3 linked regions of the Homo sapiens genome follow. The protein of the gene in region 1 interacts with the protein of each later gene in a biochemical or structural test. Each region holds a gene or a part of one and is shown in the gene's direction. Other genes may lie near its edges. The genes, in order: USP36, PRIMPOL and NOP58.

Evidence for each region.
Region 2: of the proteins of USP36 (region 1) and PRIMPOL, one has a biochemical effect on the other in vitro, tested with the Homo sapiens proteins (one study listed by BioGRID).
Region 3: of the proteins of USP36 (region 1) and NOP58, one has a biochemical effect on the other in vitro, tested with the Homo sapiens proteins (one study listed by BioGRID).

Annotation. Positions count from the first base shown.
Region 1 is NC_000017.11:78,802,443-78,810,306, reverse strand, and holds part of USP36 (ubiquitin carboxyl-terminal hydrolase 36), read left to right. Parts: intron 1-2,670; coding exon 2,671-3,348; intron 3,349-3,986; coding exon of another isoform or gene 3,987-4,020; coding exon 4,021-4,151; intron 4,152-6,328; coding exon 6,329-6,922; intron 6,923-7,451; coding exon of another isoform or gene 7,452-7,771; coding exon 7,772-7,864. UniProt on the Homo sapiens protein: Deubiquitinase essential for the regulation of nucleolar structure and function. Required for cell and organism viability.
Region 2 is NC_000004.12:184,686,963-184,694,826, forward strand, and holds part of PRIMPOL (DNA-directed primase/polymerase protein), read left to right. Parts: intron 1-4,353; coding exon of another isoform or gene 4,354-4,392; intron 4,393-4,536; coding exon 4,537-4,619; intron 4,620-4,703; coding exon 4,704-4,750; intron 4,751-7,122; exon of another isoform or gene 7,123-7,247; coding exon of another isoform or gene 7,248-7,331; exon of another isoform or gene 7,332-7,559; coding exon 7,560-7,817; 3' UTR 7,818-7,864. UniProt on the Homo sapiens protein: DNA primase and DNA polymerase required to tolerate replication-stalling lesions by bypassing them.
Region 3 is NC_000002.12:202,260,790-202,269,479, forward strand, and holds the start of NOP58 (nucleolar protein 58), read left to right. Parts: upstream 1-4,973; 5' UTR 4,974-5,152; coding exon 5,153-5,197; intron 5,198-8,690. UniProt on the Homo sapiens protein: Required for the biogenesis of box C/D snoRNAs such as U3, U8 and U14 snoRNAs. Part of the small subunit (SSU) processome, first precursor of the small eukaryotic ribosomal subunit.

The DNA of each region.
Region 1 (7,864 bases):
CAAAACAAATTTAAAAAGTAGCCTGGGCAACATAGATCCCATCAGCACAGAGAATATTCAGTAAGCTGTTGGGGGAGGATCACTTGAACCCGGGAGGTTGAGGCTGTATGCAGTGAGCCATGATCACGCTGGTGAATTCCAGGCAAGGTGACAGAGTGAGACCTTGTCTACAAAAAAAAGAAGAGGGGGGCCGGGCACTTTGGGAGGCTGAGGTGGGTGGACCATTTGAGGTCAGGAGTTTGAGACCAGCTTGCCAATATGGTGAGACCCTGTCTCTACTAAAAATACAAAAGTTAGCTGGGCATGGTGGCGTGCGCCTGTAATCCCAGCTATTCGAGAGGCCGAGGTAGGAGAATCGCTTGAACCCGGGAGGTGGAGGTTGCAGTGAGCTGAGATTGTGCCACTGCACTCCAGCCTGGGTGACAGAGCGGGACTCCATCTCAAAAAAAGGAAGCAGCCTGGGCAACATAGAAAGACCCCCATCTCCAAAACCCCATCTCCAAAAAAAGTGCAAAAATTAGCCAGGTGTGGTGGTGCACGTCTGTTGTCCCAGCTGTTTGGAGGTTGAGGCAGGAGGATCACTTAAACACAAGGCTGCATTGAGCTATCATTGTGCCACTGCGCTCCAGCCTGGACAACAGAATGAGACCCTGTCTCAAAAAACCCCAGAAAAACAAAGGAAGCCCCACTTGCCACAGGAACTCCATGGGCAGAGTGATGCCCGAGGGTGGAGATTGGCTCAAGGAGAGTCCCTGTGTCAGGCACACCTGCAGGGGCGCTTCACTGACCATGAGCATTTTCATTACAAACGTGATTTTCCAAATACACTGCAAGCAGACGAGCCGTTTTACTCTAAATGACATGGTGCAAGTTCTAGTGTGTATGGAAATGTTCAGCCAGTGAAACGGCTTTGCGGTGCAGTGGAAAGATGAATTCCTTTTAGAAAACAGTATTAACAAAGAATAGAATGTAGGGAACAAAACAAAACTTGGAAGAAAATAGAGGTAAATTCTTAACCTCTGGGAAGGGAAGAAGACTTTGTATGCTTAAAGTTGAAGGATAAAATGTAGAAGAATTATGAATTGACTAAGATTTACATTTTTGTACATAATTTACTACAAACAAATGAAGCAATAAAACCTTGTAAAATATTGTCAACAAAAGGTTAACATTTGTAAACAAAAGATCTCATTCAAATGAAGATCACTTTAGTGCATGTGCAGAGAATATGAATGTTAAAGTGGTAATAGCCCAAACGAGTGTCAAATTAGCAAATGTTTTGAAAAATAGATGTGGCTGGAGTATAGTAAAAGCAGTTTGGCATTTTGCATCAGATTTCATGAAAATGAAATCTGTAATTTCATTTCCAGAAAATTAGCCTTGTAATTCCATTTCCAGAAAATTAGCATGGAGTACTAAGTACAGGAAAAGCTCAACAAATATTTTTTAAGCACCGACTCTATACCAGACCCTTGAGTTGCTGGTGAGGGCTGCAGTGGGAACGAGAGAGATAACGGGTACAGCCTCTTGGTCAAGCAGGGGAAGGCTGACATTCAGCATCTAAATACAGAATAATAAGTTATTTCTATGCAGTTGTAATAAGTGCTCTGAAGGGTAAAGGATACACACACATATACTGTACAGTATTTTTAATTTCAACAGTTGGAGACAATATAGCTTATATAAATTAACCATACAGTTAATGTGTATCAGTAGTACATAGTATATATAGTAAAATGTCAAAGACAGGCCGACAGGCAGGGTGCAGTTGCTCAGGCCTGTAATCCCAGCACTTTGAGAGGCCAGGGTGGGAGGATTGCTTGAGCTCAGGAATTCAAGGCTAGCCGGGGCAACATAGCAAGATCCCCATCTCTACAAAATAGTAATAATTATTCGGGTGTGGTGGTCTACTCCTATAGTCCTAGCCAGTTGGGCAGCTGAAGTGGGAGGATCTCTTGAGCCCAGAAGGTTGAGGCTGCAGTGAGTTATGATGACATCATCATGCCACTGCACTCCAGCCTGGGCAACAGAGCAAGGCTCTGTCTTAAAGATATTTATTGAGAGTTATCGCCCATAAAAATGCTTGAGATAATAGCTTTAAGATAAAACTGGGATGCAACTCTTCAGGCCAGAACCATTTGGAAGAAAAGATTGAAAAAAGAAAGCACTAGAATGTTAATGCATGGTTATGTTTAGGTGATGGAACTTTGCTAAATTTCTTCCTTTATACTTTTTTCTCTTCCCAAATCTTGATGAAAATGTACTGGTTTTATAGTAAAGGTGGCCATAAAGATATGTATTCAGGCCAGGTGCTATGGCTCACACCTGTAATCCCAACACTTCTGGAGGCTGAGGCAGGTGGACTGCTCGAGGCCAGAAGTTTGAGACCAGCCTGGCCAACATGGTGAAACCCCATCTCTGTCAAAAATACAGAAATTAGCCAGGTGTGGTGGTACACGGCTGTGGTCCCTGTTCTTGGGATGTCACAGAACACCAGAATTGTTCAGAGAAGCCACAGTGTCTTTACCAAGAGTCCAGATAAATAATTTATCTTGAGCATGCTAATCAGAGGCCATGCCTGCTACTAAGATTCACTGTGGCCTTAAGAAGATGTGGCCCAGCTGAGACTTCTCGCTTCCTCAGTTGTGTTTTCTGCTTTGGTCTCCTTAGCGACAAGACTCTGGGACGATGAAGAAGCCGCACACCACTGAAGAGATTGGTGTGCCCATATCCAGGAATGGCTCCACCCTGGGCCTGAAGTCCCAGAACGGCTGCATTCCTCCAAAGCTGCCCTCGGGGTCCCCTTCCCCCAAACTCTCCCAGACACCCACACACATGCCAACCATCCTAGACGACCCTGGAAAGAAGGTGAAGAAGCCAGCTCCTCCACAGCACTTTTCCCCCAGAACTGCTCAGGGGCTGCCTGGGACCAGCAACTCGAATAGCAGCAGATCTGGGAGCCAAAGGCAGGGCTCCTGGGACAGCAGGGATGTTGTCCTCTCTACCTCACCTAAGCTCCTGGCTACAGCCACTGCCAACGGGCATGGGCTGAAGGGGAACGACGAGAGCGCTGGCCTCGACAGGAGGGGCTCCAGCAGCTCCAGCCCAGAGCACTCGGCCAGCAGCGACTCCACCAAGGCCCCCCAGACCCCCAGGAGTGGAGCGGCCCATCTCTGCGATTCTCAGGAAACGAACTGTTCCACCGCTGGCCACTCCAAAACGCCGCCAAGTGGAGCAGATTCTAAGACGGTGAAGCTGAAGTCCCCTGTCCTGAGCAACACCACCACTGAGCCTGCAAGCACCATGTCTCCTCCACCAGCCAAAAAACTGGCCCTTTCTGCCAAGAAGGTGGGTGTGTGGGGGTCTCGCCGCTGCTGTGTATCAGGAGAGCTCCAAGAGTTGCTTGGTTGTGGTTTGAAGGGAGTGAGAACATTGTCCGGGGGCTTTGGCCTCCCTCATGTTAGAGGAACAAAGTGTCTTTTAGTCGTTCCCAGCCATTTGCAATTAAAGAACGGCTATCTTGGGGTGAAGGCAGTATGGGGTGTTGAGAGAGCCCTGATCTGGTGATGCTCATGTGACTCATGGAGGTTTGGGCAAGGTAGCAGTTCCCTGTTTTCACAGTAGGTGGAAGATCCTGACTGAACCCGAGGGAGGGTGGGCCCCACCAGCACGTGTCCCTAGCAGGGGTGGGGCGGGCAGGAAGCGCAGAGCCCCAGTGGGGTGCCCGGCACCTCTGCAGCAGGAAGCTTGGGCAGCCACGGCACGTGGATGTGATTGTTGTGCTGAGATTTTTGTTTAAATTTTCTTCCTTTTTTTTGTTTCTAACCAAAAATACTTTTCTGGTTCTTCTTCTACCATTCCCCTGCCCCTCACCTCCCCTTTTTGTCTTCTTCTGTCTCCTCATCTTTTTTTCTGGGCTCTTTTGTTTTTATTTTCATTTTTTGTTACTTTTGTTTTCCCTCTTCACTCACGGAAACCTTTTTTAGACCACCAAGTTTTTATTTATGTCGATAACTGCAGGCCAGCACCCTGTGGAGGGCGACCGGCAATGACCTCCGTCCACCTCCCCCCTCACCATCCTCCGACCTCACCCACCCCATGAAAACCTCTCACCCCGTCGTTGCCTCCACTTGGCCCGTCCATAGAGCCAGGTAAGCTTTGGGCCGGGATCTTCTGGGTGCCAACTGGTTCTCCCTGTGGTTGCGTGTGCTTGGCTGGTGAGGAGTTGGACGAATCGCCAACCTCACAGGACAGACAAAGCATTGGGGCAGCCAGGAGGTACAGGGGGGCGTCACTGACCAAGATCCCCCTCTTCTGTGTTCCCCTGTGGTAAAGGAGCTTTGGGTGGTGAAGGCAGTTCGGCCTCTGCAGTCCTGATGTCTTAGTTCTGTCTTTGTTGGTGGTCTGTCTGCGACATCCTTGTGGTGATGTGGTGTGCTGGGGACTGACCTGTCCTGTATCCCTACCAGCCCCATGACAGTACTTCCCAGTCGAAGAGAAAGGCGAAGTGAGGCCTTGGCGAGAGGCTTGAGTGAGCTCGGAGTCCCGAGCGTTTTTTGTGGGACGTCTTGCCTGCTAGCGTCATGCAGGTTAAGAACTGTCTCAGGGCTCTCGGGTTCCTCTGCAGACACCTGCCAGAGATGCAGCCCCTTCCCTGTGCATGTGGGCCCTGGTCCGCAGGGGCTGCCTGCGTCTCTTAGGTGCCTCGAGTGGCAGGAAGTTGAGAGTAACTGGTAAATGGCTGTCTGGAAGCCGCTGGGAGTGGGGACGGAAGCAGTGAAAGATGGGGTGAGTCATGAGGCGGCCTGCGGGGACTGTACTGGTGGCCTCGGCGCTGGGTTCTAGTTCTAGAATCTCCAGTGCTACATGAGGGCGAGGTATGACTGTGCGTCGCCCACAGCCTCTGCCTTACTCTCCTCTCACATATACACACACAAGCACACCTCTGCCCTATACCTAGCATAAGATTTGTGTACGTGGGAGGGCCTTAAGTGTTTGGGTGTTTTTCGTTTCTTGCCTTATAAGCTTTTTTGGAAAAGATTCCAGAAGACACTTAGAGTAATCAAACATCGTGCAGCTGGCATGGCCCTTATAGTTTGTTTAGATGATGACGGGGGTCCTGTTTTCTGCAGGAACCCTGGGAGGTGGGCTTTGTGGTCCCAGCTCATTGACAAATGAGAACATGGTGGTTCAGAGTGGGAAGTTAATTTTCCTAGAGACACATAGCTGGCAAGAGGGAGCCTCACTGGGTTCGGCACTAGATCCTGTCCCGGACACGCCTTGCTCATGATTCTGCTCTACGCATCTGTGTCCCGGTTTCAGCGTCCTAATGACGGTAATGTGGAGGTGTCATTAGGCCAGCTCAACACTTGCTTTCCTTATGAGGCTCATTTCCTGCCCGGGAACACCCTGAGACTTTCGGAGGTTGGAAAATAAATCCTCACGGGATCTTTTTTTTCCTTACCATTTATTGTTTCGTGAAGGTTTCCTCCCTTAACACATTTGTATTAAAGATGTTTTTACATTAGAGCTCGCAAAAATACTTGAATTGCTTGGTGACAAGAAACTAAGGCATGGAACAATTCTTATTAACTTTGCCTTTTAAAAAAAAAAAAATTTTTTTTTTGACTTTTAAAATCACGTGTTGGCTTGCTTTTTTTTTTTTTTTTTTTTTTTTTTTTAAATCTCAGGGATCAGTTATTTTAAGTTCCAGGGTACATGTGCAGGATGTAAAGGTTTGTTACAGAGGTGCCATGGTGGTTTGCTGCACCTATCAACCCACCACCTAGGTAACTTTGTTTTTTTTTTTTTGTTTTTGTTTTTGTTTTTTTGGTTTTTTTTTTTTTTGAGACGGAGTCTTGCTTTGTCGCCCAGGCTGGAGTGCAGTGGCGCGATTCGGCTCACTGCAACCTCCACCTCCCAGGTTCAAGCGATTCTCCTGCCTCAGTCTCCTGACTAGCTGAGATTACAGGCGTGTGCCACCACGCCCGGCTAATTTTGTATTTTTAGTAGAGATGGGGTTTCACCATGTTGGCTAGGCTGGTCTCAAACTTCTGACCTCAGGTGATCCAGCCACCTTGGCTTCCCAAAGTGCTGGAATTATAGGCATGAGCCACTGTACCTGGCCAACTTTGCATTTAAATAGATGTTGAATTAATTGTTAGCTTTCTTTCAAACATACATGTAACTTAATGTGTATCTGAAAACTACAGGGTAAAAGCCTTTTCAGATTTTTAGGTGAAAGGGAGGGGAGTGAGGGTAGACAGAAGGAACAGCTCTGCTGGGTCTTTCAGAACATCCTCTCCCTGTTTCCTGGCTGTCCCCACAGGGCTGTGTCACCTGCTCCCCAATCATCCAGCCGCCTGCAACCCCCCTTCAGCCCCCACCCCACATTGCTGTCCAGTACCCCCAAGCCCCCAGGGACGTCAGAACCACGGAGCTGCTCCTCCATCTCGACGGCGCTGCCTCAGGTCAACGAGGACCTTGTGTCTCTTCCACACCAGTTGCCAGAGGCCAGTGAGCCCCCCCAGAGCCCCTCTGAGAAGAGGAAAAAGACCTTTGTGGGAGAGCCGCAGAGGCTGGGCTCAGAGACGCGCCTCCCACAGCACATCAGGGAGGCCACTGCGGCTCCCCACGGGAAGAGGAAGAGGAAGAAGAAGAAGCGCCCGGAGGACACAGCTGCCAGCGCCCTGCAGGAGGGGCAGACACAGAGACAGCCTGGGAGCCCCATGTACAGGAGGGAGGGCCAGGCACAGCTGCCCGCTGTCAGACGGCAGGAAGATGGCACACAGCCACAGGTGAATGGCCAGCAGGTGGGATGTGTTACGGACGGCCACCACGCGAGCAGCAGGAAGCGGAGGAGGAAAGGAGCAGAAGGTCTTGGTGAAGAAGGCGGCCTGCACCAGGACCCACTTCGGCACAGGTAAGGGCAGGAGCAAAGTGGCATCTGTCTACCTCTGACGAGAAACAAAGCAAAACCACAGAATCTACCCCCAAGTAGGTATGGTCTGGAAACGTAGTCTGCTTGCGTGGTTTTCTAAAATGTGGATTTGTGATCAGATGTCTCCTCTGGCTGGGTGTGGTGGCTCACACCTGTAATCCTAGCACTTTGGGAGGCTGAGGCGGGTGGATCACTTCAACCCAGGAGTTTGAGACCAGCCTAGGCAATATGGAAAAGCCCTTTCTCTACCAAAAACAAAAATTGGTTGGGCATGGTGGCATGCACCTATAGTCCCAGCTACTCAGGAGGCTGAGGTGGGAGGATGGTTTGAGCCCAGGAGGTGGAGGTTGCAGTGAGCTGAGATCGCGTCACTGCACTACAGCCTGGGTGACAGCTAAACCCTGTCTAAAAAAAAAGAAAAAAGAAAAAATATCTCCTCTGATAAATACCAGTGGATTGATCCTTGAAGCGACAGTGGTGTGGACAGTAGTGTCCATCATTGTATGTGCAGGGCCGTTCAAGGATGCTGGATCAGGTGTCCCGGGCCAGGCCAGGATCTGCCGTTTCATCAGGTCACAGTAGCCTGCACATTGGCGTCAACAGGCTTGGCTCAGTTAGGATGGGAAACGCGACTGGTTTTCCCTCTACTGTCTCCGTGGCTGCGTGTGGAGCGTCCGCTAATGCGTGTGGGGGGAAGAATGTTGCAGGGACCTGCGTGCACTGGGTCACAGCTGGGGTGGCACCTTCTCCATGTTGCAGGCGGGTGTCTGTGCGCTCCTGCTCCCCTTCCAATTTGCTCAGAGCTGACTGCTGCCTCTCACTTCCAAGCAGCTGCTCTCCCATGGGTGATGGTGATCCAGAGGCCATGGAAGAGTCTCCAAGGAAAAAGAAAAAGAAAAAAAGAAAGCAGGAGACACAGCGGGC
Region 2 (7,864 bases), on another chromosome or scaffold:
CAAAAAATCATTATTACATGGTGATCATAACACCTTGTATTATGTCTCCATAATCTATTCTGTTTTTTAACCGTGGAATATATCATACATACAAAAGTATAGATAACACACTTTTTTTTATTTTCTGAGATGGAATCTCACTCCGTTGCCCAGGCTGGAGTGCAGTGGCATGATCTCAGCTCACTGCAACCTCCGCTTCCTTGATTCAAGTGATTCTCCTGCCTTAGCCTCTCAAGTAGCTGGGATTACAAGTGTGTACTACCATGCCCGGTTAATTTTTGTAATTTTAGTAGAGACGGAGTTTCACTATGTTGGCTGGGCTGGTCTCAAACTCCTGACCTCAAGTGATCTGCCCGCCTTGGCCTCCCAAAGTGCTGGGATTACAGGTGTGAGCCACCGCACCCAGCCGATAACACACTTGTATACGCACATTTTAAAGACTAAAGTGACCACCTGTTGTATCTGCCGCCCACCTTAACAACCAGAAGCTGATCAAACCTCAGAAGCACCTGTGGGCCCAACCCCAATTTCCTTCTCTCCCTGGCCCTCAGAGATGGTAGCCAGTATCCCGATTTTGTGTTCATCTTTTCCTCGCTTTTATGATTTCTCCCATATACGTTCATATCTCTAAACAATATACTGTTTTCTTTTTCTTTTCTTTTGTTTTTTGAGACAGAGTTTTGCTCTTGTCGCCCAGGCTGGGGTGCAATCGCACGATCTCGGCTCACTGCAACCTCTGTCTCCCGGGTTCAAGCAATTCTCCGGCCTCAGCCTCCCGAGTAGCTGGGATTACAGGCATGCGCCACCATGCCCAGCTAATTTTTTGTATTTTTAGTAGAGACGGGGTTTCTGCATGTTGGTCTGGCTGGTCTCGAACTCCCGACCTCAGGTGATCTGCCTGCCTTGGCTTCCCAAAGTGCTGGGATTACAGGCATGAGCCACCGTGCCCGGCCATAAACAATATAGTGTTTTCTTTTGCTTGTTTTCGAATCGCATCCTCTCCCTTGCCTTGCGGTAGCATATCTGTGATTTTCACCCACGTTGCAGTATGTAGCTGTTGCTTATTTGTGTCACTATTGTGCAGCATGCCATGTGTATAAATATAAATAGGCCACAGTTTATCTGTTTTCCCACAGTGGACATTTGGGTTGCTATTATAAACCGTGAAGGTGGGAACCGTGTTGTACATATCACCTAGTATACATGTGCTAGAGTTTCTCAAAGTGGACTTGCTGTGTCGTGGAATATGCACATAATTAATTTTACTAGATCATAAATTGTTTTCCCAAATGGGTGTGCCAGTTTATAGTCCTGCCAGCAGTGTTTTGAGATTTTTCTACTGTTCCATATTCTCACCAACACTTTAGTATTGTTAGGATTAAAAAATTGGTTTTGCTCATCTGGCAGATGTAAAACAATATTGTAGTTTTCTTGGGAATTTCCCTGATTACTAATGAAGTTGAGGATGGATAATCAAATTACATCCACACAGATCAGAAATCTTGCCCAGTGTCAAGCTTTACTAATAATGTAGGAATACAAGGAATGAAAAGGCACAAATGGGGCAGAGTGAGGCCCGGGGCATCTGGCCCGGCTCCCCTGGCCCTTCCTGCTCTTTCTGACTCAGGAGGAAACCCGAGGCAGGCGTGAGCAATCCATGCACACAGCAGGAAGCACCGAGGTTGTGAATCACCTGCATTTTACACTCAAGTTGCACAGCTGGGTGACATTTCCGGAAAGCATGCCTCATAATGCATTGATTCTAGACTTTTTACCAAATGCAGTTCTAAAGTCAGAAACGTCCTACGAAGAGCATTCTGTAGGTAAGGACTGAACTCCTAGCGTTTGGTCCAGACGTTCCCCGATTTTCTTGGTTCATGGTTCCCCTGGTGTCTTTGTTTCTTCACATTTTCTCTGAGGCTGACAGAAATACCCGAGCTCTGGTAATGAATTTCAAACAACTTGGTAAGTGTTTATGTCCGAACAGTTTAGTAGCAGTTTGAATAATAGTATCCATAAACTAAAAAAAAAAGCCACTTTTCATTCTTAAATACAATTACTTATTAATGGGATGTATACTCTCCATTTTTTCATTTTTTTGAGACAGGGTCTCGCCCTGTCGCCCAGGCTTGAGTGCAGTGTGATGGCCCAGGCTTGAGGACAGAGTGCAGGAGCTCACTGCAGCCTTGATCTCCTGGGCTTGAGCGATCTTCCTGCTTCAGCCTCTCACGTAGTTTAGACTACAGGTGTGCCACCATGGCTGGTTAATTTTTAAATTTTTTGTAGGTGGGATCTCCCTCTCTTGCCCAGGTTGGCCTTGAACTCCAGCCTTCAAGCTATCCTCCCACCTCAGCCTCCCAAAATGCTGGAATTACAGGTGTGAACCACCTCACCAGGCCTATGTATGCACTCTTAAACCCTGGAATCAGATTAGACCCCACCCTCCCCAACTCATACCTTGTTCTCCATTGATGTTAATGGTGCTTTTTTTTTTTTTTTTTTTTTTTTGAGATGGAGTCTTGCTCTGTCACCCAGGCTGAAGTGCAGTGGTGCAATCTCGGCTCACTGCAACCTCTGCCTCCTGGCTTCAAGCAATTCTCCTGCCTCAGCCCCCCGAGTAGCTGGGATTACAGGTGCCCACCGCCACGCCTGGCTAATTTTTGTTGTATTTTTATTAGAGATGCGGTTTCACCATGTTGGCCAGGCTGGTCTCGAACTCCTGACCTTGTGATCCACCCACCTCGGCCTCCCAAAGTGCTGGGATTACAGGCGCGAGCCACCATGCCCGGCCTGATGTTAATGGTGCTTTCTATTACAACCACACCCCAAAGCCCAGCTCTACAAAGATGGAGCATGAATGAAAGGAATGAAGTCACATGTGAACTGCAGGCAAGGAGTTTTCAGATTGCTCAAGAAATGTCAAGTATCACTGTGTTTTCTAGCAGTATTTCAATATCCTGCAGTGCCCGGGGCACCTTCCTGTACAGTTTGGGAGCCACAGCATTATTAGCTCATTAATTGGGAGGCCTGTTACTAGAATGTTTAAGGGAAGATTAGACTAAGTCACCTGCCTTTTTTTGCTCCTGGGTGCAGGTCCCTTACCACCTCCCCATCCCACACCTCACCTACTGCCATGGGGAGTGTTAACCATCTTATTTCCTTTTCTGTAAAATGTGGGAACATTTTCAACTATTTAATCAAATCTTTAAGAATTTTAGTGATTATAGGATTGTTTAGGTTTTCTGTTGCTTTTTAAGTTTGCTTAGTTTATTTTTATGTAGTACTTTATTTTACAAAAACTTTCAAAGTTACTGGCAAAAGTTGTTCACAATATTGTTTTCTTAAAAACATATGATGCATTTAATTTCTAATAACATTTGTGTCTTTGCCTTATTTTTAAATCAATTTTACCCTAATTTCATTTTCTTCAAATGTAGGCCTCGTTGATTCTTTTTACTTTTGTCTCTTTATGACTGCCTGCCTTTTATTTATTTATTTACTTATTTATTTATTTAGAGACAGAGTCTCACACTGTCACCCGGGCTGGAGAGCAGTGGCACCAGCTTGGCTCACTGCAACCTCCGCCTCCCAGGTTCAAGTGATTCTCCTGCCTCAGCCTCCCAAGTAGCTGGGATTACAGGTGCCCCCCACCACGCCCAGCTAATTTTTGTATTTTCAGTATAGACGGGGTTTCACTATGTTGGCCAGGCTGGTCTCTTTATTCAGTTCGTTGTTTTCCACGTTAGTCACTTAATCCATGTATCTTTAGCTATTCTTCTTTCATAACACAAGATTTTAAGACTATAAATTACCCTCTAAAGGTGACTTTAGCTGCATTTCACATATTTTAATATGTACACTTCCAGTCCACTCAGGTCTAAGCGTTTTCTAATTTCCACTATTTTTCCTTGAACCATTGGTTGTTTCAAGTTGTTCTTAATTTCCAAATTATGGATTTCTATTAGTTTTATTTCTAAAATTTGCTTTATGCTCAGATGTGTTCTGTATGAAGTGATGATTTTAAATTTGATAAAATTCACTTTATAGCTAGCATGGAATTGGTTTTATAAAGAACTGCTTCATATTTACCTATTAGATCAAACTTCTTAATTGCTTTTTGTCATTCATTTTTTCTGTATCCTTATTGGACCTTTTTTGTGGTTATCCTTTGATCTATAAATTACTGAGAGTATGTTTTTTAAAAACCTTGATTTATGGTAGATTTGTTTATCATTGTGGTCCTGTCCATTTTTGCTCACATATTTTGCAGCTGTATTATTTGGTGAGTACAGGTTGAGAATTGTTACATCTTCCTGGGGGAACTTTCATCAGTATCTACTTTTTGCCCTGCAGTTCATTTTGTGTGATTTTTGGCAACCACCGTTTTGATTGGTATGTATCTATCCTTATCCTTTTACTTTTTAATTTTTCTCCATCTTTAAGTCTTAGGCATATTTCTTGGAACAGCATGCAGCTGGATTTTGTTTTCTACCCAGTCTTGGTATTAATACTTTTTTTTTTTTTTTAAACATAAAGGATTCTGGTTGATCTGAAAAATGAAGTTTGGTATCAAAAATGTCATGACCCTGTATGTAAAGCAGAAAACTTCAAATCTGACTGTAAGTTACTAATTTTTACATTTACCACAAAGTAAAAATTAGATAACTGTAATATGTAATAGTTTTGCTATCTTTCTGATTCAGGTTTCCCATTACCTGCTGAAGTATGTCTCCTGTTTCTTTTCAAAGAGGTAAGTACAGATTTTAGTGTCTTTCTCCTTACCAGGGAGTTCTTGGTACAATAGTATACCTGAGCCATGAGTAGTGTCCAAATAGCATTGAAACCCATTTGCTACCTTGTTTTCACTTATGACTGTATTATAGGAATATATTGTAGTGATTTTCCCATTTCAGCACATATCTGATAATACAAACCTTTTTTTTTTTTTTTTACTGCTGCTTGAGGTGTACAGTTTAATCAGTCCCAGACATTTAAGAAGTTTCCCATATTTTGCTTTTCAAAGTAACAAAATACCCATCTTTGTATTTCTTTGAACATCTGTATCTGTAGGATGAATTTCTAGAAGTAGAATTGTGTCAAAGGGCATATTCAGTTTTAATTTTGGTAGGTATTACCAGGTTGTCAAACCAACATTTTTCTCTTAAAGATTTTTTATTTACCCAAATAATTAACGTGCATTGTAGAATGAATTGAAAATACATAAAATTAGGTCAGGCACAGTGGCTCAGGCCTGTAATCCCAGCACTTTGAGAGGCTGAGGCAGGCAGATCACTTGAGGTCATGAGTTTGAGACCGGCCTGGCCAACATGGAGAAACCCCATCTCTACTAAAAACACAAAAATTAGCCAGGTGTGGTGGCCTATGCCTATAATCCCAGCTACTCAGGAGGCTGAGGCAGGAGAATCCCTTGAACCTGGGAGGTGGAGGTTGCAGTGAGCTGATATCACGCCATTACACTCCAGCCTGGGAGACAGAGCGACTCTGCCTCAAAAAAAAAAAAAAAAAAAAAAGAAAGAAAATACATAAAATTAGGAAATACACAAGAAGCAAAGAGGAAAGAATCTTCCTTACTCATTTGACCAGAAATAAATGATACACGTTTTGGCACGTACCTTCGAGAATTTATGTATGCTCATTTTCTTTTTTTTTGAAGTGATAGCACACATACTATTTCAGTTTTTTTTCTAAAGTATCACAAATATTTTTAGTACCTATTATCAAATTGCTCTCCATAAAAAGTATAGGATATTAGACCTCCACAGATAATTTATGAGAGCACCTATTACCTCACACTTTGCCAGCAGTGCTTGTTTACCTCGAATCACTACCAATCTGGTAGGCAAAATGCAGTACCTCAGTTGTTTTAATTTGCATCTCTGTAATGAACTTTTTTCGGATTCACTATTAGTATTTCTATAATGAAGTGCCTGTACCTGTCCTCTGTCCATTTTTCTGTAACTTTTTTGCAGTAATTAAGTACTGTTTTTGACGTATTTCACTTTTAAATTGTAGTTTGTGTTTTGTTTTTTGTCACATCTGTCAGCTTTCTCCTCTATAGTGTTAATAGAATAAAAGAAGTTACCTGCTACAAGCAGAACAGGTGATGGGGTTTATATTCTAGAAAACTCAGTCTTAACACGTCTCTCGAAAAAACTCCATATGTTTGAAATGGTGGAAATTCCATTCTTGGTCTGCAAGAACTGGACATAAAATAACTGATAGCCAGATTCTCTGGCAAAATACCAGGTTAAAATGTGTTTTGAAATAACCAAGAACAAAGTAAATTTTAAAAAATAAACTGTCTCCAAGAGGAGGAGGATTGCATCGCCCTTGTTAGTCTGGATTGTGATTTAGATATTCGTGGTTGCAGTGGATTTTTAAGCTACTTTTTCCGCTTATCTAGTAACACCTCAAAAATGCCAAGTTGAAAGTACCATTGGTCAGTATTACCACTACTTGGACATAACTTTTTAAAGTAAGATATATAATGAACACCCATGTAGCTGTCACTTAGTTTTCAGTTAACATTTTGCCTCTCCTGCTTCATCTTGTTTTTTAAAACAAATATTTTAAATTACCAGTTGGTGTTATTTATACCTGCTTTTCTATTGCACTGATATTTCATTGGTCACTTGATTTTAAATTTACTATAAAGGCCTAACCTACAGAAATGTACAAGAATAAGGAACTCTGCTGTCTGTCCTCTATTGAGATCTGCCATTTGTTAACACTTGGCCACATTGGTTTTCTCCCTCTACTGTATACATACGCATTATTTTTGATGACTCTCTTAAACTGCAGACATCAAAACCCTTCATCTAATATTTAAGCACGTAGCGGAAAGAATAAGACATTCTGTAGCTTTTTTAATGACAGGGGGGTATCATGTTGCCCGGGCTGGTCTCAAACTCCTGGCCTCAAGCAGTCCTCCCGTCTCAGCCTCCCCAGTAGCTGGGATTACAGGCACGTGCCACTGCACTGAATAAGGACATTCTTTACATAAATAATGTATTGGGCGGATCAACTAAATGTCTATACTGAAGACATTCTATGGTAAAATAATTGATACAATACTATTATGTAATATACAATCCAGTCATATTTTGGCAACTGTTTTTAATCTTTTTTCAATCCATGTTTACGATTTGCTAAATACTTTAAAATTTAAAGCATGGGTACTAAGTCCATTGTCAAGATAGCAAATTTATCTTCTGATTTGTCTTCAGCTGGACTGTCCACTTGTTAAAAAATTAAATCCACCCTTGCTCTTCCGTCGGGGAGTATTGAAAAGTATGTGCACAGAACTGTAGGTAATTTCAAATTTGGAGTTTCAAGTGTGTCTGAGCTTCAGTGCAGCAACGTTTGAATCAGTGCACTCATTCCCACGGTGAGATATCGGAGACAGCATTCCTCCTGCATATTCACTTTAGTATCTGTCACTTAATACCTTACTTCAACATAGAGTATAAGGTTAAATCACATATCCTGAGTAAATATTTTCCTATCCCACTCTCTATCCCTTCACCACTGAAATAAAGGAAGAAGAGTTTACAACAGATGAAGCAGATGAAACTAGGAGCAATGAAACCCAGAATCCTCATAAACCATCACCTAGCAGGCTGTCAACAGGTGCATCTGCTGATGCTGTCTGGGATAATGGCATTGATGATGCTTATTTTTTAGAAGCTACTGAAGATGCTGAATTAGCTGAAGCTGCAGAGAACAGTCTTCTCAGTTATAACAGTGAAGTGGATGAAATTCCTGATGAACTAATTATAGAAGTATTACAAGAGTAACTAATTCACTATGAACACTTTTGTCACCAGGCTATAATTTGCCTGAT
Region 3 (8,690 bases), on another chromosome or scaffold:
ACAAGAGTAATAATAAGTAGAGAGATTTTTACATGTTTCTTTCACTGCTGTGTCTCTAGTGCCTGTAAGAATGCCTGGCACAGGCGGGCGTGGTAATCCCTGTAATCCCAGCACTTTGGGAGGCTGAGGTGGGCGGATCACCTGAGGTAGGGAGTTCGAGACCACCCTGATCAACATGGAGAAACCCCGTCTCTACTAAAAATAAAAAATTAGCTCGGTGTGGCGGCCTGTAATCCCAGCTCTCAGGAGGCTGACGCAGGAGAATTGATTGAACCCAGGAGGCAGAGGTTGCGGTGAGCCGGAGATCGCGCCATTGCACTCCAGCCTGGGCAACAAGAGCGAAACTCCATCTCAAAAAAAAAAAAAAAAAAAAGAATGCCTGGCACAGGCTGGGTGCAGTGGCTCACGCCTGTAATCCAGCACTTTGGGAGGCCGAGGTGGGTGGATCACGAGGTCAGGAGTTTGAGACCAGCCTGACCAACATGGTGAAACCCCGTCTCTACTAAAAATGCAAAAATTAGCCGGGTGTGGAAGTGCGCACCTGTATAGTCCCAGCTACTCAGGAGGCTAAGGCAGGAGAATTCCTGAACCCGGGAGGTGGAGGTTGCAGTGAGTGCTGAAATCCTACCATTGCACTCCAGCCTGGGCAACAGAGTGAGACTCCATCTCAAAAAAAAAAAAAAAAAAAGAATGCCTGGCACAGAGTAGACACTCAAATATTTGTTGAATACATAAAAGATATTCACCACCCAGAACATCCCCTTCTTGTTACCAGGCACATGGAAGGTGTCTGACCAAAATGGTGTCTTTGGCTAATCTCATTAGGTTCCAAAAAGTCCCTGGAGGCTCTACTAGCACCTTGAAATTATCCCACCATTCACTCATTCCATTCATCCATTCATTTACTTAGTTACTAGTCATGTTTATGGAATCTCTACTACGTGCCAGATACTAGCCTAGTACTTGCAGATTTTGCAACTAACTTTTATAGAGTTTATATTCTAGTTGGAACAGGGGTGGAGTTGGGGTGTACAGAGAGGACAGACGAACCATGTTTCTCATCCTTGTTATTTCACCATGTTAGCCACCAGTAAAATTGTAAGCCCTGGCCGGGCGCAGTTGTTCACACCTGTAATCCCAGCACTGTGGGAGGCCAAGGTGGGCAGATCATCTGAGGCCAGGAGTTCGAGACCAGCCTGACCAACATGGAGAAACCCTGTCTCTACTAAAAATACAAAATTAGCTGGGCGTGGTGGCACATACCTGTAATCCCAGCTACTCGGAAGGCTAAGGCAGAAGAATCGCTTGAACCCGGGAAGCAGGGGTTGCGGTGAGCTGAGATCATGCCATTGCACTCCAGCCTGGGCAACAAGAGCGAAACTCTGTCTCAAAAAAAAAAAAAAATTGTAAGCCCTTCTATCATCTGTACTCTCCTATATTCTCCTTCTTATATTTCTTTGTGCTATCTCCCCTTCACTCAGTACTTTAACAAAGTACTAAGACTCTTACTTCTCCCTTGCAAGAGAAAATCTCCAATTACTGGCCGGGAGCAGTGGCTCATGCCTGTAATCCCAGCACTTTGGGAGGCCGAGGTGGGTGGATCATGAGGTCAGGAGTTCAAGACCAGCCTGGCCAACATGGTGAAACCCCATCTCTACTAAAAATACAAAAATTAGCAGGGTGTGGTGGCAGGGGCCTATAATCCCAGCTACCCAGGAGGCAGAGGCAGAAAATTGCTTGAACCCAAGAGACAGAGGTTGCAGTGAGCCAAGATCATGCCACTACACTCCAGCCTGGGCAGCAGAGCAAGACTGCATCTCAAAAAAAAAAAAAAGAAAGAAAGAAAATCTCCAATTACTTTATTTGGTCAAGTTACAAACCCAAAATCAGAGTCAGCTCTGAACTCCTGATTAAAGCATCATATGGAGGTGACTATGTAAATGGTAACGTGCAAGGACAAATTCTAGGACATACCATGGCAAAGAGATTTCTCATTGAATAAGTGGTTTCATTTCATTTTGGGAATAGGATTTAAGGCTTTACACGTAAAGAAAAGAATTTTTACTTCCTGCAGACATTCATTCATTAAATTTTTAAGAATTAATTAGATTCTATTTCATGAGTAGCACAACATAACATCCTATACAGACACAAATATGTGTAAAGTAGACTCAATTCTCTAGCAGATGTCACTTCTGCTAAGGAGACTAGACAGAAAAATACTGTGCAGTTAAATAACACTATAAACAGACATGGTGTTTCTAACATCTCACCCACCCACGCATACCCCTCTCCCAATCAGGTAATTTTCGTCTCTCTTGTCTCCCTGACCACACTGGATTACAGCTGTAACTATAATCAACCATGCTTTTTTTCTTTTTTGAGACAGGGTCTTGCTTAGTAGCCCAGGCTGGAGTGTAATGGTGAGATCATAGCAGGCGTGAACCATACACTCGGCCAATTATGCTCTTGAATTCACCCTAGGCCGGGCGTGGTAGCTCATGCCTGTAATCCCAGCACTTCGGGGGGCTGAGGCAGGCGGATCACCTGAGGTCAGGAGTTCAAGACCAGCCTGGCCAACATGGGGAAACCCCGTCTCTACTAAAAATACAAAAACTAGTTGGGCATGGTGGCGTGTGTCTGTAATCCCAGCTACTGGGGAGGCTGAGGCAGGAGAATCACTTGAGCCCAAGAGGCAGAGGCTTCAGTGAGCTGAGATCGTGACTGAGATCGCGACACTGCGCTCCAGCCCTGGCGACAGACTGAGACTCCGTTTCAAAAAAAAAAAAAAAAAAAGAATTCACCCTAGATTCCTCTGTCCTGTGACTTTCTGTTATTCAACCCAGGATTTTCTTTCCTCTTAATCTCAGGTTGCAGAGTTGCTACCTATTTAATGTTCCACAATCTTGAGCAGGTTGCAATTTTTTTTTTTAGATGGAGTCTCGCTGTGTCGCCTAGGCTGGAGTGCAGTAGTGCCACCTCGGCTCACTGCACCCTCCGCCTCCTGGGTTCAAGCAATTCTCCCAGCAGGTTGCAATTTAATGATTAGGAACAATCTGCATATAGGGCCTGGGAAGTGAGTAAGGAAATTTTACCCCTGTTGGAAGACAGACTTGTGAAACAACTGGGGTATTTAATCCCAGTCCCTGAGACTGAAAGGCTTCCAGAAAAGCAAGTAACACTAAATCAAGAAGACAGTCTAAATTCAGCCCCGCACAGTGGCTCATGCCTGTAATCCCAGCACTTTGGGAAGCCGAGGTGGGTGGATCACCTGAGGTCAGGAGTTCGAGACAAGCCTGACCATCATGGAGGAACCCCATCTCTACTAAAAATACAAAATTAGCCAGGCGTGGTGGTACATGCCTGTAATCCCAGCTACTCGGGAGGCTGAGGCAGGAGAATTGCTTGAACCCGGGAGGCAGAGGTTGCAGTAAGCAGAGATCATACCACTGCACTCCAGCCTAGGCAACAAGAGTGAAACTCCGTCTCAAAAAAAACAAAGAAGAAAAAGAAAAAAAAAAAGACATTCTAAATTCATACCCTGGGGTCATTTTAACAAATGCAGCAAAAATAGGAGAGGCTTATTGAAAGAAAACTGTGCTAATAATTCATTTGGCCAGACAGAAGGGAACGGCCAGGAATGCTCACAAATATAGTGACAGTAATGGTGTCATTCTGAGGCCTTCGCCTCAAGGCAGGGCTTGAAAGGGGATAAAGTCTAATGGCACTAGCTGGCATTTCAAATTCTAGATGCCTGAGGCAGACTGGCACCGAAACAGCTCCTCGTTTCTCTCAAAGTGAACATATAATTCATAGAGGGTTAACAAAATAATATCGTGAAGTTTTTCCCCTTTAAATCTCTAGCGGTGGCGGGGCGCGGTGGCTCACGCCTGTAATCCCAGCACTTTGGGAGGCCGAGGTGGGAGGATCCCTTGAGGTCAAGAGTCCGAGACCAGCCTGGGCAACATCGTGAAACCCTGTCTCTACAAAAAATTAGCTGGGTGTGGTGGCACAGGCCTGTAGTCCCAGCTGCTCCGGAGGGTGAAGTGGGAGGATCGCTTGAGCCTGGGAGTTGGAGGTTGCAGTGAGCCGTGATAGTGCCACTGCACTCCAGCTTGGGCAACAGCCAGACTGTCTCAAAAAAAAAAAAAAAAAAAAAAAAAAAAAAAAAAAAGGCCGGGCCTAGTGGGTCACGCCTGTAATCCCAGCACTTTGGGAGGCCGAGGCGGGCGTATCACGAGGTCAAGAGATCGAGACTATCCTGGCCAACATGCTGAAACCCCATCTCTACTAAAAATACAAAAATTAGCTGGGCGTGGTGGTGTGTGCCTCTAGTCCCAGCTACTGGGGAGGCTGAGGCAGGAGAATTTCTTTTTTTTTTTTTTTTTTTGAGACGGAGTCTCGCTCTGTCGCCCAGGCTGGAGTGCAGTGGCAGGATCTTGGTTCACTGCAAGCTCCGCCCCCTGGGTTCAGGCCATTCTCCTGCCTCAGCCTCCCGAGTAGCTGGGACTACAGGCGCCTGCAACCACACCCGGCTAATTTTTTGTATTTTTAGTAGAGACGGAGTTTCACCGTGTTAGCCAGGATGGTCTCGATCGATCTCCTGACCTTGTGATCCGCCCGCCTCGGCCTCCCAAAGTGCTGGGATTACAGGCGTGAGCCACTGCGCCCGGCTAGGAGAATTTCTTGAACCCGGGAGGCGGAGGTTGCAGTAAGCCGAGATCACACCACTGCACTCCAGCCTGGGTTACAGAGCGAGACTCCGTCTCCAAAAAAGAAAAAAAGAAAAAAGAAAAAAAGGCGCAAAGGCTCCGTTCAGGCCCTAGATCCCGCGATACAAACTTTCTCGGCCCGCCCCAGCCCGCTGTGGCGGGAACATTCTGGAAGTGACGGCAATCTCTGCGGCAGTCTTCTGTCGGAAGTGACGTTGCTATCCCAGAATCCTCAGAGAAGGAGTAGCGCGTTCGTGCGTCCTAGTTCCAGTACAGCGTGGAGGGTTTAGGCAGCGTGTTCTGATTCTTTGCGGGACGGCGAGCGCATTTGTGCTTTGCCCGCCGCGGCCTAGGAGGCCTTTTGAGGCCGCGTAGTCGGTGTTTTTGAACTGACTCTACAGCTTCTGGCAGGCCGTGCGGCGCCCTGACCCGGCCTCACCATGTTGGTGCTGTTTGAAACGTCTGTGGGTTACGCCATCTTTAAGGTAGGTGGGAGAGCGAGCCGTTAAAGGGGGAAGGCGGATGCTGGACAGACGAGGAGAGGGAAAGACTTAAGCACGGAACTACTCAGAGTAGCGTGGGTGCCTGTTATAGCCCGGGCTCTGGGAGGAGGGAGAAGGCCTTTACACCTGAGAGCCATGTTACGTGTAACACGTGGCCCCGCCGTTTGGGGAGACCCGTTCTGCATTAGAGGATTTTATTTCCTCCCGTTGAAGGGGTGGGCAGGAGGCGTGTTAGAATTTAACAGATTATAGGGAATTCGGACTTTATTCTAGATGTTTTGAGGAATGATCGAAAGATTTTTTTTTTTTTTGAGATGGAGTTTCGCTCTTGTTGCCCATGCTGGAGTGCAGTGGCGCAATCTTGGCTCACTGCAACCTCCGTCTCCCGGGTTCAAGCGATTCTCCTGCCTTGGCCTCCCGAGTAGCTGGGATTACAGGCCTCCATCCACCACCACGCCTGGCTAGTTGTTTTTGTTTGTTTGTTTGCTTTTAGTAGAGACGGGGTTTCACCATGTTGGCCAGGCTGGTCTTGAACTCCTGACCTCAAGCGATCCACCTGCCTCGGCCTCCCAAAGTGCTGGGATTACAGGCGTGAGCCACCGTGCTCGGCCAATCGAAAGGATTTAAGCAGAGGAATGACCTGCTAATTTGTCTTAATACGGTTACTCTGCTGTGTGGAGATTAGACTCGAGGAGATAAGAACGGCAGCAAGAATACTTTTGCATTCATTTGGACAAGATGAAATTGCCTGGTATGGAGAGAAACAAATATCGATAGAAATTGTGAAGGTAGAACAGGAAGGACTGGCTAATAGATTGAATGTGGGGTTTTGGTTTAAATAAGATGTTAAGAAAGTTTCTTGGGGAAGGACTAAAGATTTCCGGTTTGGGCTGTGCGAAGCTTGCGTTGTCTATTAGACCTGATAATGCAGTTGTGTAGATCGGGCAGTTCAGTATTTCAGATTTGAAGCTTAGGGGAAAACATCTGGGCTGGTGATGTCAGTTTGAGGTTTGGTTGTTTTCGTGGGGAAAGTTTGACAAGTTCGTCAGCACTGAAATGGTTGAATGGTAAGACATTCGTATCGCAAGATGCTGTTGAGATGTTAGGAAGAATGAGTGAGATTGAGTGCCTTTTCTTGTGCGGTGCAACTCTTCTGAGGTCTGTGAATATAGCAATGAAAAATAAAGTTTTTATGTATATTCTACATATATATATGTTGGTAGAAAGCAAAAACGCTAGGTAAAAATAAATGTAATACAATTTTAGCTATGAACCAAAAAACCATTTGTGGTGTGGATGCAAGAAAGTCTGGATGGGTGCAGAGTTCTCCATGTTTCACTTCTGACATTTGAAAATACGCAGTTTGCATTTGATACGTCAAATGTTATTTTTAAGAAAACCAATAAAATCATTAAAACCGAAAAGGCAGTTTTGCTTGTTTTTACCTTAGTTGGAGTTATCTGCAATTGCCGTATTAGTGTTTTAAGGAACTTGTAAGTAAGCTCCTTAGTCCCCTTTAGAGCTACGAAACATGTCAATTTTACTTTTCTCCAGCTTTTTGGAATCTTATCTAAATTACCATGTAGAGTTCTGCATAGCTTCAAATTCTCTTAGCCAATGTGGTCTGTAAGTGTCTATCGATGAATTTCACCGTTAATTGCCGTAGTATACTGTCCTGTACCGGATGTGAAGAGGAGCAACTCTGCACAGTGCACTGGTTGTCTCCCATGGTAGGAAGGAATTGGCTTATCAATGGTCGGATTTCTAGACCTGGGTCCTAAAATACTCAACCGTGTCTCGATGAATTACTGATTTCTATTAATGAAAAGTGTCCTCCTCCATGAAAATGTCTTTGAGTATTCCGTTGGAGTTTGCAGTGCTATTTATCTGCAAGTTACTGTTCAAAATGATTAAATTGTGGTTTATGTAACCTAGTACTAAAGAAATAACTAGTTAAGCTCGAATATGTTGACATTGATTAGTTTGTAATTATTGGAATTAACATTGATCGTTTCTGAGTATAAAAGACATACAAACGTTCTGGAACTAGTGATGGCTGCACATTTTTGTGAAAATGCACTACTAAAAAGTGAATTGTACACTTTAAAAGGGCAAATATTAAGATACATGTAAAATTAATATGATATATGGTGAATTTTATCTCCTAAAAAAGTAGACATACGGTTCAAAGTTATTAGTTTCCTTTCCCATAATCTTTCAAAATGCTAGGGTATAAAATTATGTTGGTTGCCAGGCATGGTGGCTCATGCCTGTAATCCCAGCACTTTGGGAGGCCGAGGCCGGCGGATCACAAGGTCAGGAGTTTGAGACCAGCCTAACCAACATGGTGAAACCCCGTCTCTACTAAAAAAATAGAAAAATTAGCTGGGCGTGGTGGTGTGCGCCTGTAATCTCAGCTACTTGGGAGGCTGAGGCGGGAGCATTGCTTGAACCCGGGAGGCGGAGGTTGTGGTGAGCTGAGATCGTGCCATTGCACTCCAGCCTGGGCAATAAGAGCACAACTCCGTCTCAAAAAAAAAAATTATATTGGATGCATATAATTCATGCTTTGATGAGAATGCTTTAGGAAGTTTTTTGAAGTTTTTTGTTTTTTTGTTTTTTTTGAGACGGAGTTTCACTCTTGTTGCCCAGGCTGGAGTGCAATGGCGCGATCTTGGCTCACCACAACCTCTGCCTCCCAGGATCAAGCAATTCTCCTGCCTCAGCCTCCCGAGTAGCTGGGATTACCAGCATGCACCACCACGCCCAGCTAATTTTGTATGTTTAGTAGTGACAGGGTTTCTCCATGTTGAGGCTGGTCTCGAACTCCTGACCTCAGGTGATCTGCCCGCCTCAGCCTCCCAAAGTGCTGGGATTACAGGCGTGAGCCACTGCACCTGGCCTTGAAGTTTTTTTTAAACTTCCATTTACAGTGAGGAAAACATTTTATGTATAACCCATGTACACATACAAATTCATGTTTATGTATTTAAAATTTATTTTGAGGCAGGGTCTTGCTCTGTCACCCAGGCTGGGGTGCAGTGGCAGGATCATGGCTCATTGCAGCCTTGGCCTCCTGGGTCAAGTGATCCTCCCACCTCCTCCCGAGTAGCTGGGACTACAGGCTCAAGCCACCATGCCTGGCTAATTATTTATTTATTTGTATTTGTATTTATTTATTTTTTGAGATGGAGTCTCACTCTGTTGCCCAGGCTGGAGTGCAGTGGTGTGATCTCGGCTCACTGCAACCTCCGCCTCCTGGGTTCAAACGATTTTCCTGCCTCAGCCTCCCAAGTAGCTGGGATTACAGGCGTGAGCCACCATGCCTGGCCTAAATTTTTTTTTTTTTTTTTAAGAGGCAGAGTCTCACTATGTTGCCTAGGCTGGTCTCAAACTCCTGGCCTCAAGGTGCTGGGATTACAGCCATGAGGTACGGTGTTCTGCCCACTTATGTGTTTAGAGCGATTCAAAAGGA